Regions from separate parts of the Homo sapiens genome. Here region 2 is linked to region 1. The links come from fine-mapping of genetic effects on gene expression. Tissue or cell type: whole blood. Region 1 holds a variant in brackets; the other region holds the start of a gene. All regions are shown on one strand. Distances are between the middles of the regions.

Region 1 (8,101 bases):
AAGAGAATTATTATGAATGAGTCCTGAATGGTTACTAATTCTGAAACCTAAACACCTTTTAGAGAAGCCTGACTCATTTCAAAATAATTTTGAGAATTAAGCTTAGCAAAGTAAAACAAAAGCTGTTGCTAGTAATTCAAGGCTTCTGCATAAGACTATAAGTAAAGCGATAAAACTGAAACAATATATTTTGCAACTGAACATTCCATGTCTACATCATCAGCAGAGACTGTGGTAGGAGACCCTTATCTGCAGTCCGAAAACTATCTAAACTCCCATGTCTTCCCTTCACAAACATCTGATCTGGGGCAATCAGTTGAATGCACCAGGCATCGCCTTAACAAAAAAAAAATGAAGTGGCAGACGTGGCAGCATGATGCAGGATGAATACATGCAGAACCATCTTTAAACAGATGAGGTCCTGTGCACACACGGCACTCAATATTTACTGAACGCTCCCGTGAAAGGCGCCGTACCAGGCAGTGAAAGCCCAAATGTCACGTACAGAGAAGAAACAAGCGCGAACACAAGATCGAGCCGGCGAGCGTGGCGGGCGAAAGAGTCCCAGCCCGGGCCTGCCACGAAGCGGCCACCAGGCTTCTCTCCCAAGGTGTTTCTAAACCCGGCCCACCCAGCACCAGGTATGGCCCTCTGGCCTCCACGCCCGTGCTCTCTCAGCACCCTCTCCACTCCAGTCAACACGGACCACACACCAGCGTCACACGTGACCCAACATGTCTCTACGAGAACGTGATATAAGCTCTAGTCTAGGGGACTGCCAAAGCACAAACTAAATCAAAAATAAAATTAAAAACAAACTTACAGGGACAAGGTGGATGTAAGCCAGAAGGGATGGAGCTCGGGGGGACCAGGACGTGCCACACAGGCCCAGTGCAGCCGGGTTTAAAGGGAAGCTAGAAATCCAGCTGTTCTGTGTCAAGTCTAACTGAAGTGCTGGCAACCAGTTCAAGTGAGAGAGAAAGGGAAAGGGACAGAGAAAAGGAAAAGAGAGAAAAAAGAAATACAAGCCAAAGTATATCTGTGGGTCAAATATGACCTACAGATTCACCTCCTTCTAGGATATTTTTCATCTACACCTGACTTTTTGTAGAATCTTATTCGACATAAAGACATTCAACGCCGTGTTAACGTATAGCATTTAATGAAGAAATGTCTTACTTAAAAAACCCAACCACCCCCACCACCGCCTAAAGACTCCAGCGGCGCTGGGACAGTGGAGGCCTGGTGAGTGGGGACAGCACAGTGGCGCTGTGGGCGGGGAGCAAGGGTTCCCGCAGCCCAGCTCCACCACTTGAGTCCTCGGAGGAAGAGCAACTGCTCTAGAAGCCCTGGGGTCCCAACCCAGCTTTGGGTCATGCGTTACACTCAGAACTGTCAGTGTTTCTGTCATTACACAGTGTTGAGTGCGGTGGGGTTAAATGCCACAGGTTTGGACCCTAGGTTTTGAGCACGACCCCTGTGAGGCTGAAGACTCCACGTCTGCCATCTCCAGTTCATATGAAGTCTGAGGGGGGACTCTCACTTCACAGCTACCTCACAAAGGCACCATTCTGAAAGTTTTCTTTCAAAAAAGAGGGTAAGAAAAACACTGGAGAGGGGACTGAGGGAAGAAGAGGGAGTGGGTTTGTTTTTCTGGGGAAGGGTGGGTGGGGAAGGGAAGCTAGTAAAGCTTTAAATTCCATAGTGTCAAATTCCCAGGGAAGCAATATGAACAGTTTTCAGAGCATAGGCAACCAACAAAAGCAATCCCACGGAGAAGTGACAGGCTTTTCAACCCTTGGGGCTGGAACAACTGGACATCCAAATGCAGGAAGATGAAACGAGACACAGACCTTACCCTTCACAGGATCACAGGCCTAAATGCAAAAGGCAAAACTGCAAAACTCCTAAAGAAAACAGAGGAGAAAATCTAGACAACCTTGGGTTTGGTGATGACTTTCTAGACACAACACCAAAGACACACTCCATGTAAGAATTGATAAACTGGACTTAATTAAAGTTAAAAACTTCTGCTCTGCAAAAGACACTGCCAAGAGAATAAGACAAGTCACAGACTGAAAGAAAATATTCACAGACTTATAAGACTTATCTAAAATATACAAAGAATTTCTAAACTCAAAAATAGGAAAACAACCCAATTAAAAAGTAGCCAAAGGCTTTAACAAGCACCTTGCCGAAGTTACACAGATGGTAGAAAAAAGCATGTGAAAGTCATCATATGTCATCAGGGAGATGCAAATTCAAACAACGAGATGCCACGACACACCTAGTAGAAGGGCCGAGAGGAGCGACGCGAAATGCTGGTGAGGACATGGAACAAGAGGGACTCTCGCTCACTGCCGGGGAGAATGCAAAATGCTACAGGCACTTAGGAAGACAGTTTGGCAGTTTCCTACAAAACTAAACATACTCTTATAGGATCCAACAAGTGAGCTCCTTGGTATTTACCCAAAAGAGCTGAAAAGTTAGTGTCCACACAAAAATCTGCATATGGGCGTTTCCAGCACTTTTGTTCATAATTGCCAAAACTCAGAAGCAACCAAGATATCCTTCAGTTGGTGAATGAATAAACTGTGGCACATTCAGATAATGGAATACTATTCAGCATTTTTAAAAAATGAACTATCAAATCATGAAAAGACACGGAAGAAAGTTAAATGCATGTTACTAAGTAAAAGAAGCCAAACTGAAAAGGCTACATACTGTACGATTCCAACTATATAACACTGTAAAACAAAACAAGGCAAAACTATGAAGACAGTAAAAAGATGAGTGGTTGCCAGGGGTTACAGGGGAAGGAAGGATGACCAGGCAGATCACAGAGGATTTTTAGGACAGTGAACTGTTCTGTATGATACATATATGAGGGTATCTGTCATAAACTTGTTTAAACCCACAGAATGTTCAACACCAAGAGTGACTCCTATTGTAAACTGTGGACTTCGGGTGATAATGATATGTCACTGTAGGTTCACCAATTGTAACAAAGGTACCACCACTCTGGTACAAGGTGTCCATATTGGGGGAGACTGTGCACGTGTAGGGGCAGGCGCCACTTGGGAAATCTCTGCACATTCCACTCAATTTCGCTGTGAACCTAAAGCTCCTCCAAAAAACTTAATTTTTTTTTAAAGCAACCTATTAGGGAAAAAACATCCTCAAATTATCTATGTTAAGTAGATTGTAGGGGAAACTGGTAGTACTTTTTCTCTGGCTTCTCATTTATAATAAATTCATTCATTTTCCTTCCTTCATCCATCTATCTACTCACTGCTCTAAGCAAAAAAAAAAAATTTACAGAAATATATAAAATACACTAAACTTCAGATCCTTTGTGGAAAGAGGTAGGTGGAAATAAAATGCAAGTAATTAATAATTAACAATGAGTAGGATTGTTTGTTCTTTAACACAGTATTCTAAACTAAAAAGCCCTATACAAAAAGAAGAGAGAAATATTTTTAAGCATCTGCTATGAGATACCATACTTCTCTCTCTCTCAACACACTCATTTAATCCTCACAATTTTAAACTCCTTGAGAGCAAAACTCATTTTGTTCTAGGTGCCAAGCACTGAGTAATTGCCCTCTAAGTACTTGCTGAATAAATGAATGAGTAGATACTGTATCTCGTTTACAGGTAAGGACAAAAAGATTAATCACAGACAACAATGTAAGTGGCTCCTGTCAATACGTAAACATTACAACAGAAGAGACGTGTCATGCCCAATAAACAAGAGCTAAGAGAACACACACTCTGCACAGGGCCTTTGCCTGCTCAGAAAAGACATCCCCATCCCTACCCCCACCTCCTACCCCTCAGATTCCCAGACAGCCAGGCAGGGGTCTGGGGCAGACCAGCCAAGGCAAGACAGCCAACCTTAACCCCA[A/T]CTCCCCCCACTCCCAAACAATATGGCAACAAGAGCTAAGACAAGGGGACTTTCAAATACAGAAGATCAATATCTTCAGAAATACGAGAGGAAAAGCATCCTTCAAAGAGGATCAACTAGAATTCTCAGAATTCAGAGTTCTAAACGCCTCCCTCGTGGCTCCACAGAGGTGCCTTGAAGGCAGGTCTCACAGCACACAGCAGAGCCTGGCATTGATGTATTCCCTTAATAAACATTTATCCAAAGGTTAAGATGTCATAGCTGAAAGTAATCATCCTACATGTATTTCCAAAATAACCTACCTCCCTGCACAATCATTCAACTATCCTTTTAGCTAAACTCTAGGCAACATGTTTAAACTGTCAGCCAGCCCTTTCACCCTTCAGAGGCACCCAATTTTAAAAAATGCTTATTACCACTCCTCTCCCATTGAAGTGAAATAATTTATGTGATTTTATATAATAACATTAACAACTAACATCTCTCGGAAGCTATACCAAGGACCTACCCTGTATGCACTGGTGTAATCCGACGAGGTAGCTCTGTTACTGTGCACGTTTTACTTTCAGGGATACTCTAGTTTGTGCGTTCAGCAACTTGCTCACACCCCGCAGCCACTGCACACAGCAAAGCCGAGGTTGGCTCTCAGCTCTCTCTCGGGCTGGTTCTTGACAAGACAACTAGAAATGCCTGTCCGGCAAGCAGGCAACAAACAAGGAGTGTGTCAGACGGGGATGAGAGCTTTGGAGAACCACGAAGCTGGGGAGACAGCAGCGAGGGCAGGGCTGCAGCATCATATCCTTGGGTCAGGGAAGGCCTCTCCAGCAGGGAAAACCTGAGGGAGACCAGACAGCAGTGAGGGGGCCAGGGAAGCTTTCCAGAGGGAATCAACCTTGGAGCAGACTGAAGAATACGCTGTGCTCTTTCAGAACATTCATTTCTTCCCCTGGGCAAGGGGCCACACCCTGGAGCACGGAGCAAGCATAAACGGCTGGGCCACCAGCCTGACCAGCTGCCCGGGAGCAGGCGAACGCTCCTTCCTCTCCAGCCGCAGTCACGCTGTGTGCATGCACATGTGCGTATTTTAATGGCGTCATCAGCAAGAAAGGTTTAAATGCTGGAAATGACTATTCACAGTTTCTGACCAAGTATGTTTACTCCATGGACCCAAATTTGGGTCAGATAATGCATAAGAGTAAAGAGAAGAGTGGGAAAGTCCTCTATTTAATGTGCACACAATACCAACACTCCTGGCACCGAGGAAGACACGCTGGGGATAGCACCATGCTCCACACCAGGAGAGTGTGCATCTTCACGCTCCTTCCTTGCCTGACAAAACCTGCTCTCTTGGCCATGGAGACCACTCTGACATCACTTCTGCTTGGTGAGCAGGTGGGGCACTGAGTCCCAGCAACAGAGGGCACCAGCAAGGGTAGGGCCATCAGCGTGGATTTCCACACCTCCCTCTACCACCTTCTTCCTCCATGTGCTCAGGGGCGGTCAGATGCCCTGGCCTTGGCCAAGCACCAGGGCAAAGTGGGATCCAAAGGCCACCAGCATCTTTTAAAAGTGAAAGTGACTCGAAAGCTTCAAGTAATTTTCTCTGTGCCCTCTTCATGTAGCTACGGAGCGCCTTCGGCAGGAAAGCCATCACTAGTGACAGTAGAGTTAAGTAATCTAAGAATGGGTAACTTCTGTTTTATTATTAACATTAACACATAGACCACCCACGTGCTACAAACTGAAAGAAAAGAAAAATTTCATTGGAGGTAAACCTGTCTCAACTAATTAAATGTCTCTACTCCTCTGCTTCTTTCTTAGCCTGTTTGTGTGTCCATGTGTACGCACACATTTTACATGGGTACCTCAACTGAGAAACATTTCAGTAGGCTAGGCAGCATTTTAAAGTATTTCAAAATGATATTTCACAATTGCATTTTCAATTGTAATTTCTAAACTAATTTTAGATCAGAATTACGTAGCCACAACAGCTATCCAGCCATTAATTTTGCCCTTATGTTCCTTGTTCTCTACTTGGTATTTTGCACCATTAAATAAAGCTACATAATAATCAGGTGCTGAACGGAAGAGGATGCGACAGCTGCTTCTGAACAGTGCAGTGGTCTTCAATCACTCACAACCAGAGCTTCCTACTCCTCCTAGAACAGATCTGCTGCATGCTACATGATCTCCAAGTCTCCACACAATTCCATTTTCTAATCTTGCCTCTATTTCTAAATTAAATCACAAACCCTGACTTTTTGTATGCATGGGTTGGGTTGGGAGAAGGGAGACAGGGAGAGCTGTGAAGGGTGGGAGGATAAACAGTGGCATCTCAAAAAGTCAAAATTCTACTTTCAAGAGTACACTTCTGATGCCAAGAAGATAAGATCTCATGCACTTCCTCCCCAGGTTTTGAACAGATTCCACAACATATGTCTTATAACAGACTGACTACAATGAAATAGAGGGATTCATGAATGAAAAGTAGTCTTACAAACCGCATTTCATAAGCTCGCCCATAACCCACGCGACTCTTAAAATGCCGTCAAGTAGAAACATTTACATCACTTACGATGAACTATTTTTAAACCTTCTTTATTATTATAAAACAATATATACTTATTATAAAATTCTGGAAACGGGAGGAATCACTCATAATCCTACTCTGACATTTGAAAAATATTCCTTCTAATGCAACATATTCACATATAAGATTACAAAACTAATTATACTTTGCAAACTATACAGTACTTACATACTCATATATCACACCTGAGCAATAATCATATTTTGGATCATCTTATTTTCCTGAAATAGTTAACAACATTAACTGCTAAATAAAACCAAGCTATCCTACTATTTGTGTCAGGATTTCAACCAAAGAAAAAGAGACATGAAAATTATAAGCTATAAGAACAACAAAAATTTCACAGATGTGAGAAAGTTTAAAGGCTAATGGTAAAGGTATAAGTCATGTGTCAACCGAAAGCTACAAACTTTTTATTACATTTTTTATTTAAAAGCTGGCCGGGTGTGGTGGCCCATGCCTCTAATCCCAGCACCTTGGGAGGCTGAGACGGGCAGATCATGAGGTCAGGAGATCGAAACCATACTAGCTAACACGGTGAAACCCTGTTTCTACTAAAAATACAAAAACAAAATTAACCGGGCGTGGTGGCGGGTGCCTGTAGTCCTAGCTACTCAGGAGGCTGAGGCGAGAGAATGGTGTGAACCTGGGAGGCGGAGCTTGCAGTGAGCCGAGATAGTGCCACTGCACTCCAGCTTGGGTGACAGCAAGACTCCGTCTCAAAAAAAAAAAAAAAAAACCCTGTCTCCAGGGAGGAGGTAATTGCAGGAGAGACTATCAAATAGATTCAAATTCCAGATACATAGTGTCGACACCCCAGTTAGTTAATATAAATTATATATAAATATTAAAAATGGACATACAAGACCAGGAGCAGTGGCTCATGCCTGTAATCCCAACACTTTGGGAGGCTGAGGCAGGTGAATCACTTGAGGTCAGGAGTTCGAGATCAGCTTGGCTAACGTGGTGAAACCCTGTCTCTACTAAAAATACAAAAATTAGCCAGGTGTAGTGGAGGGCGCCTGTAATTCCAGCTGAGGCGGAAGAATGACTTGAACCTGGGAGACAGAGTGAGCCAAGATCACAGCACTGTACTCCAGCGTGGGTGACAGAGCGAGAAGCAGTCTCAAAAAAAAAAAAAAAAACATATATGTAAAATAAGCATACCCTAACTAAACAATGTAATTCTCATGAGATCCATAAGTATAAATTACACTAGAAGAAATGAAAACATTTTTCTTTGCTGGCTCTTATTCAGGCACTTTCTGGTGTCCCATGCTGATGTGAAGGCCAGGTGTCAGAAGTGGGAAGGTTTACGGCATAACCCATGTTTACTGGCAGAAACCAGGAAAACTCAGAGAGGTAAAAAGAAACATTAAACCTATTCTGTCTACCTAGTGATAACCACTGTTATTATCTTAGGGTATAACTCATGTCAAACTAACTTGAGAGAAGCCACAGCACTGTAATGCCACCAAGCGGGATTACACCCCGAGATCCATGACTAGACTATAAACTATATACACTAGGAACCATATACACTATGCGAACTATAGGACGATTAGCCAACACCAGCAATAAAGCCACAATTTAAATGTAAATGC
Region 2 (8,097 bases), 60 kb after region 1:
TCTCGGGTCACAGCAACCTCTGCCTCCTGGGTTTACGCCATTCTCCTGCCTCAGCCTCCCGAGTAGCTGGGACTACAGGCACCTGCCACCAAGCCTGGCTAATTTTTTTTTTTTTTTTTTTTTTTGCATTTTCAGTAGAGATGGGGTTTCACCGTGTTAGCCAGGATGGTCTTGATCTCCTGACCTCATGATCCGCCCGCCTCGGCCTCCCAAAGTGCTGGGATGACAGGCGTGAGCCACCGCGCCCGGCCTGCATTACATTTTCTGAGTATTGCTGGTGCATTAGGCCCCCCACTGATTTGAATATATTGATACCGTAACCATGAAAATGTATTTGGTTCAGGGGGCATGGGGGAGATAAGGGAGTTACCTAATTTACTGTTTGTACTAACTGGTTTGTTAACTGTCCCCAAAACTGTGATTTCACATGGTCTATCACCACACTAGAGTCATGCGGATTTACTTTCAAAACCATGCTGTAAATAATCTATATGGCTCATCCTCGATTTCCGATACGGCTGTTTCTCTGGTCAAAAAAAAAAAAAAAATCCCATAAAACCTCAGGTAATGCAAGGTAGATCTGGGAGAGATCCTGATAGGCTGGTTCCCAAATCACTGCACTAGTCTATGTATCTCTATCTATCGATCGATAGATAGAATTTTTTTTTTTTTTTTTTTTTGAGATGGAGTCTCACTCTGTAGCCCAGGCTGGAGTGCAGTGGCATGATCTTGGCTCATTGCAACCTCCGCCTCCTGGGTTCAAGCGATTCTCCTGCCTCAGCCTCCTGAGTGGCTGGGACTACAGGTGCACGCCACCACACCCGGCTAATTTTTGTACTCTTGAGTAGAGACGGGGTTTCACCATATTGGTCAGGCTGGTGTCGAACTCCTGACCTCAGGCGATCCGCCCGCCTCGGCCTCCCAAAGTGCTAGAATTACAGGCGTGAGCCACGGCGCCCCGCCTGCATTAGTCTGTATTTACAATACCTGCATTCTAAGCTTTTCAAGCCACTCAGGACCCTTCCTGGCGGAATGTGGGTTCTGGACTTAAGCAGGACCCTAATGGAAATGTGCAGGAATGGGGATCAAGCCATTCAAGGGGCAGTCACTGAAGACCACTTTCACCTTCTTTCTCAGTCCTTTACTTTCTCCCTTAAAGGCAAGGGAGACCATATATGCTTTTCCCCTCACAACATCTAGTGCCTGAAAAATCTGACCAAGACTGCATTTAAAAACTGAAGTGTAAAGGTATTGGTTATAAGAACAAACAGCAACCAGCTTAGCCTGGCTCAGCACTGGCTGCTCTGAAATTTCATTACCAGACAACTGATGCTCTAAAACCATTCCCCACATTGGTTTGCTCTGTGGCTGGATAAGACCCAAACTTTATCCATACAGTAAGTGTCTCTATACTTCACACATATAGGGTTTCCATCAAATCCCTTTATCGAGTCTACAACCCTCTCCAACTTCAAATTCACTCCAATACAAATCTGATTCTAACCATGCCAGCCATTCCAAAATCATCTCCCTTCTAGAGACTACATTGGCTAATCCCTTTGTTAAACCTGAACACAATTCCAGCTGCTTTTATGACTCATTTGGCCAACTAGAGCCCAGTTACTGGATAACATGCATACACCACCAAGCTGAACTAATTAACACCAGAATGCAGTTTTCCACTGAATCTACCAAGGGCCAAGAACTGCTTTTCCCCAAGGTTCTCTCTCTCTGTACTCAACAGACTGGTGTGGTCCAATATGCTGCGGGCATTCTCTTTCATTTATAGGAGTGCCTCCAACTGCGAAATGTGAGAGTATGATGTGGAAAGGTTCTAGAACTAGATTAACGTACACGGGCTCCAGCTTTGCAAGGACAAAGGTGCACATTTTAGGGAATCCAGTATCAGCCCCAACTGCCTCCACTATCAGGTACTGTGCTATGAGTTTTCCAACATTATGAGGGAGACCCGATCTGTCGGGCCCTTCTAACGAGAAGCTTCGATTTGCAAAGGCTAAAGTGCCTTCATCAGGGTGAGAGGTACACCCAGCGAGGCCACACTAGTCCATCTGACCCCAAAGGCCATGTTCCTGAGCGCCGCGCTCACCATCCCGCCTCTGATCTTTTCTCCCTCGGCCCGGCGTCTCCCGAGAGGCAACCCGATCCCGCCGGAAGCCCAAGAAGGGCCTAGGAAGCGGGCGGAGGCGAGAGCCAGGAGAGCACCCGGGATGCCGGCCGCCGGGATGCCGGACGCAGGAGGCGGTGCCCGGGGAGCAGGGGCTCACCTGTAGGCGGCCACGGCCCGAGTCTGCAGGTATTTCTGGGCGGTCATGACTCCCACGAAGAGAAAGTTCCTGTCGCGCGGGCCGCCATCTGGGTCCGAGCCGGGCGGCCAGAGCTGCGCCCCGCGCGCATCGCCGCGCGCCCCGCCGGCCTGGGAAGCCGCCGCCTGCCCGGACCGGCAGCCCTCGGGGCTGGCGCGGCGCCGTGGGCCCGCTCGCTTCAGCTCGGAAGCCCGGGGCAGGACGAGCCGCGAGGCCAGCACGAAGCCCAGGACGAGCCCGAGCAGCACGCTGAGCCAGGCGCGCCGGCCGCGCGCGGCCATGCCCGCGCCGCTCCGCCCGCCGGGCCGCCGCCGCAGGCTCCGCGCGCCCTCAGCCCGCTGCCCCCGCCCGCGGAGGCCAGCCCGCCCTAGCGCCGCGAGGCCCGGCCCGGGCAGCGCCGCCGCCGCCGCGGGCCCGCCGCGCCCATCGCGGCCCCCGAGCCGCCCGCAGGCCCCGCGCCGGCGCTTTGTTCCGCACGCCCGCCCCCGCCGCCGCGGCCTGCGCCTTTAAGAGGGGACCATGCCCGGCGCGCGCTAGCGGCGGCTCGGGCGCGAGGTGGCGGCGGCTCCTCCCGCTCGCGCGCGGGGACGCGGGGCCGGCACGACGGCGACGACGGCGGCGGCAGACGAGTCCGGGCTCCCGTCCCGCCCTGCCCGCGTCCTCCGGCTGGCTGGGCTCGGTTCGCACGGCGCCTGTCCCCGTCCTCTTCGTAGCCGGCGCCGCCGCCGCAGCTGCACATCCTCCGGCTTAGCTCGCCATTGCAACAGGAGCCCCTCACGTCACGCACGGCGCGTTATGAAGTGGCCCCGCCGGCGGCGAGCCGTGGCCCCTCTCGGGATCCGTCCGCGCCGCGCGATTGGCGCAAAAGTGAATGAGGGGCGGTTCACGTGGCCGAAGTTTGACCAAAAAAAAAAAAAGCCCTCTCGGGCGCCCCGCCCGCGCGGTCTGCGACTGGAGCTGGCGGGCGGAGGGGGCGTGGGCCCCCGCCCGGCGCCCGCGGGGCCGGAGCTGCCCGTGATCCGCACCTAGCACCCGGCGCAAGGGCGTCCCCGCGAGGACGGCCGCTTCCCGCACCGCGGCGCCCGGGCGCGAATCTCGGGAGCCAGCCTTGCAGTGGGGGCTTCTCGGCCCCCAGACTCCACGCTGCGCACGTTCCTCCCGCACGGGCCGTCCTCGCTGCACCCCACGGCCACGCCCTTCCTGCCGCCGGGCCGGCCCCGCGCTCCCGGCCCCGCGCTCCCGACCACACTGCAGCTTTGTCCGCAGTCCCGCGGCCGCACGCAGGGAACAGCCGTCCCGGAGCCCTGGGGACGTGCGCGCCTGCGAGTGGACCGTGAATTCAGTTACCTTGTTCCCTGTTGCTAGTTTCTACGCTAAATAAGAAGAAGAAGAAGAAAAAGCCATCTTTAATACTTAAGGTCCACGCTTCTCATACAGTACTAGCATTTAATGGATCTCGAAGACAAGGAAAATGAAGTTAATGCCCTGGATGGTAAACCCTACTTTCATTTACATACTGTGTGGGCAGATAGCCGGCTAGTACCCCCAGCCTGGGACTTTGTCCCTACTTTAATATAGTCCGTCTGTAAAAGTGCCGTGGATTTCTAAAGACGGATTTTGGGTCCCAGATCCTCTACTCTGGATTTTAAGTTTTATACATTTCCTCTGCAATACTTCAGCTAAGGCAGCAAAAGCGGAGGTCTCCATACAACGAAAGTTTGTGTAGAGTTTCAGTCTTGTTACTTAGTCACCAGTATATTGGGGTTTTCTAATGAAACTTTTGAAGGGCAAAGTGTTTCCCTGGGCCTGAGAAGTTACCTGCATTGAATCAAATAAACACATGCCTGGGGCAATCCTTGGATCTTTCTTCATTGTTGACCAAATGGTTGAAATACTATCACACAGTTTAAAATGCCTGTGGGAGCTTCAGATACCTTCTCGGCACCTGAATGGTGGTCACTCTTGTTTATTCTTTGGATATTACCACTTTCTTTGACACTTGTGATTTATATTAAAAATAGTTCATTACCTACCTTCCCACAGAGCCCCTCCCTAAGGGGTGATCCACATCTAAAAATAAAATACTCATTATGCAGTGAATACAGGATTCCAGCAGTGGTCTTGGGAAAAATACAGAACATACAACCATGAATTACAGGCTCGAAAACCATCGAAAAAGGTTTCCACTAAGACCATAAACCACAAATGCCGAGGAGTCACCAGATCCCCCAAATTCAGCAGCCCCATCATTCACAGTGATTTACATGAAGTACGAATCTGGCCAGATTCAGATGTTCAATTTTGTAGCATATTCAACGATTTCAGTATTTTCTAACCTGCTTTAGACTTACCTAGTTTTCTTCGAAACTAGTGTCCAGTGAAAAGCTGGCCGGGCGCGGTGGCTCACGCCTGTAAACCCAGCACTCTGGGAGGCTGAGGCGGGCGGATCGCCTGAGGTCAGGAGTTCGAGACCAACCTGACCAACATGGAGAAACCCCGACTCTACTAAAAATACAAAATTAGCCGGGGGTGGTGGTGCATGCCTGTAATCCCAGCTACTCGGGAGGCTGAGGCAGGAGAATCGCTTGAACCCGGGAGGTGGAGGTTGCTGTGAGCCGAGATCGTGCCATTGCATTGCACTGCAGCCTGGGCGACAACAGCGAAACTCCGTCTCAAGGAAAAAAAAAAAAAAAGTATATAAATATCTGATGGGAATAATATTCTGAGGATGCCAAATATTTTGTCCTCCTCAATATCCTGGTTCCTAGTTGTCCCTCAGTTCCTAGGTTAACAGTCTCACCTGTCTCACCTGCAGGCTTAATGGGGGTCTTTCGTAATGTAGAAAGGATACCCTTTTCTTTGTAAAGGCTGAGCCTGAGGGCTTACAATTCCCTGGAGAAGGAGAGTAAGACATACGGGAACTCCCTCTGGGAGAAGAGGGATATGCCAGGCCAAGAGAGGGTTGGAAGGAGAAGAGAGAAACTGAGGTCCTGTAGAAGTCTGCCAGGGGCAGGGACCAATTCCGGCATGCAGCCTAGGAGCAGGAGGGCAAGCTCTAGCACATCTGGAAGGAGCAGCTGGATTGTTGAGCTGAGGCAGTTCTCCTGGGGAAGAATCCAAAAGTGTCCCAGTAAGGGGCCTGGCTCAGGAGACAAGGCTATCCTAAGTGGGGATTTCACAGCCAGTAGCAAATACCTGGAATCAAGAACTTCAGTGACAGCCAGAGACCCAAACAGCTGGACAGGACTGGTACCCCCAGTATGAAGGCCTGTCCCATGCCCAGCCCCACTAGTCAATACCAGCAAGGAGCCAGGGAGGACAACGAGGGTCTGGAACATCTGCCCCCAATGCACACACATGCGTCCTTCCCCACAGCCCCCTGGAGGCCAAGGCTGTCCTCATCCTAAAGCCCCCTCACCCTAAGTAATTTTTAAAGGTAAGGAGTAGGCAGGGTGATTCGCATTTATAGGGATTTCACTGCAGGGAGCTGAGGAAAGACTTTTCATGTTCCGGGCTTCTTGATTTCACTGTGCTACTGGCCTTCTCTGTTGAGGGAATCATTGACCATTTTTCTCATCATAAAAGAAGGGGAGGTATTAACTGTTACCAGGAACACTTGTAAGGAAGCCCTTAACTGTAGTTATTCCATGAAAGTCCCAATGGCACAGGAGTGGCCCAAGAGGTGGGCTGTGATGGATCAGGGATCAGGAGTGTGGGACCGAGTCTGAGCTCTGCGTGGAGTGAGTTCCACCTGGAGGGGCTCCGGGAGTCCGGCTCTGTCTCCAAATGAGTCTTTCTGCTGGATCACGTTAAACGGTCCTCCATAGTGATTCCAGACCAGTATTCAGAAATGTGTTCAAAAATCCCAGATCACTTAACTTCCCTTCTGTGTTCATGAGTGTGACTCTTTATGACACATTATTAAAGTTCATCGCCACCTACCTTACTGAGCATTTTCTCACAGATGGCAACTTTGTTCCCACACACTTCACATTTCTTTTCTGTTGCTAATACATTGAACGTCTGTTACCAGTATAACATTTCATATAATTTGCAGCAATTTCTTGGAAACCCTTGGTAAATACCTCAATTGTTTGTTGGCAGCAAGCCTCAAACGACCGACAGAGTTCCCTGTTAGAGCTTCTTTAAAGATGAAGCCTCTCCACTCACGCCTCAAACAGGGGTCCTTGGAAAAAGTGGTAATTTTTATTAAAGAAAAAAAACTTTCAGAAAGGCCTGTTTTAAGAAACAGTGAATGCTGAGGAGTTATAATCATCCATCCTTTCAGAAGGTTCTGTTCACTGCCTGCAAAGAAGAAAATCTATAATGACCACTTTACTAATATTGCCACTTAACCTCTGTTAACCCAATAAAACACTGCTTCATTATGAATGCTGCTATTAAACTTACAAGCAAGATCCTCATGAGGTTGTTAATTTCGCTCACTATTTCCTTCTGTTTGTAGCATTTCCAGTCAGATGCAGGAAAGGGCAAGTGAGCAGGGCTCACGTTCTGGTTTCACACACTGGCCTATTCCAGCCCTGGGTGTTCTGCAAAGTCCTTCAGTGCTTATCAGCTGTGTACACCGTTTCCATCAGACGCTGAGTCAGTGTGAGTGCTTCTCACACTGTGTGTGTGTGTGTGTGTGTGTGTGTGTGTGTGAGCTTTCATGTGTACGATAGAGACACAAAAGAGATTTAAGTTCAGTATAACCATGTGGACCAGCCAGATGGGATGTGATCTTCCTAACTAGAAAACGCTGGGTGCCGCCAGCACAGGCACTACTGGGAACCAGCCTGAATGTTCTTTAGGAGACAACCTCACTGCAGAGGCTGAGGACAGTTGGCTTCTGGTGTTAAGACTTAATCCTTGTGGAGAGGAGTTTGCCTTTCCCATCCCTTGCCAAGAAATGCATTGATCTTTAAAGCGGTGCCAGAGTTTCCACAGCTGGGAAGTTTGCACAAAGACAAAGCTCCTATCCACAGGAGGGAACTCCCTGTAGGAACCCAGGCACTGGACAGCTGGGCAGCAGCATGGCCACCTGAGGGCTCAGTGCAGCTGGGGCCAGATGTGCAGCTCAGATTCGATTCCCACTGGAGGCCTAATGAAACGTAAAACTGGGAAAAACATTCACGCTGCAGAAGACGGTTTAAGCTACAAATTGAGGCAGCAGAAATAGGGATCTACAAACACCTGAAAGTACAATGCAAGAGAAAACACTGTCACCATAATACTCATGGCTAAATGGCCCCAGGTCATTGATCCTTCTCACACCCAGTTATGCTATCAAGCCCATGCTAGGGTCATAAACACTCTTAATGCACACCTCATGGGTGATAAATGTTGTTATCCAAAGTTGGCAATTAAGGCCTCTCTAGGAACTCAAAATAATCACCGTATGTATATTCACTCGGAGGAGTCTGTGGAAATAGAGGCTTTCCCAACATGCTTGCGGGAGAGCAAAGTCATACAAACCCACTGGGAGGGCGGTTTTGTTTGAATATAAGTGTGAATTTTTATTTCCATTTTTTTAAAGACAGGGTCTCACTTTGTCACCCAGGCTGGAGTGCGGTGGAGTGATCGTGGCTCACTGTCAACATTACACATTACAAGTGCATTTGCTTTCGACCCCACAGTCCTGCTTCTGAGATTTGTCCTCCAGCCATACCAGTACAAAATGACACTTGAACGAGGTTATTCTCTGCGACACTGTTTGTGATAGTAAAAGATCAGACCCCAGTGTTCATGTATAGGGGAATGGATAAATACACAA

Evidence for each region. PIP is the estimated chance that this variant, and not a neighbour inherited with it, causes the effect.
Region 2: it holds the start of CHSY1, and the variant in region 1 is fine-mapped to the expression of CHSY1 in whole blood (INTERVAL, PIP above 0.99).

The regions. Positions count from the first base shown.
Region 1 is chr15:101,188,605-101,196,705 of GRCh38, forward strand. All of the region lies in intron 2 of CHSY1 (chondroitin sulfate synthase 1), which reads right to left. Among named protein-coding and RNA genes, the nearest start is that of LRRK1-AS1, 41 kb to the left of the region's middle. RefSeq lists enhancers at 884-1,771, 4,899-5,442. The variant A/T (reference allele first, on the strand shown) is at 3,908.
Region 2 is chr15:101,248,852-101,256,948 of GRCh38, forward strand. CHSY1 (chondroitin sulfate synthase 1) reads right to left here and starts at 3,197. Exons shown (of 3, transcript NM_014918.5): 1 at 2,286-3,197. The coding sequence starts at 2,605. LOC107984727 (a long non-coding RNA gene) reads right to left here and starts at 7,083. Exons shown (of 2, transcript XR_001751746.2): 1 at 6,735-7,083; 2 at 6,509-6,629. RefSeq lists silencers at 2,182-2,611, 2,802-3,111, 3,282-3,661.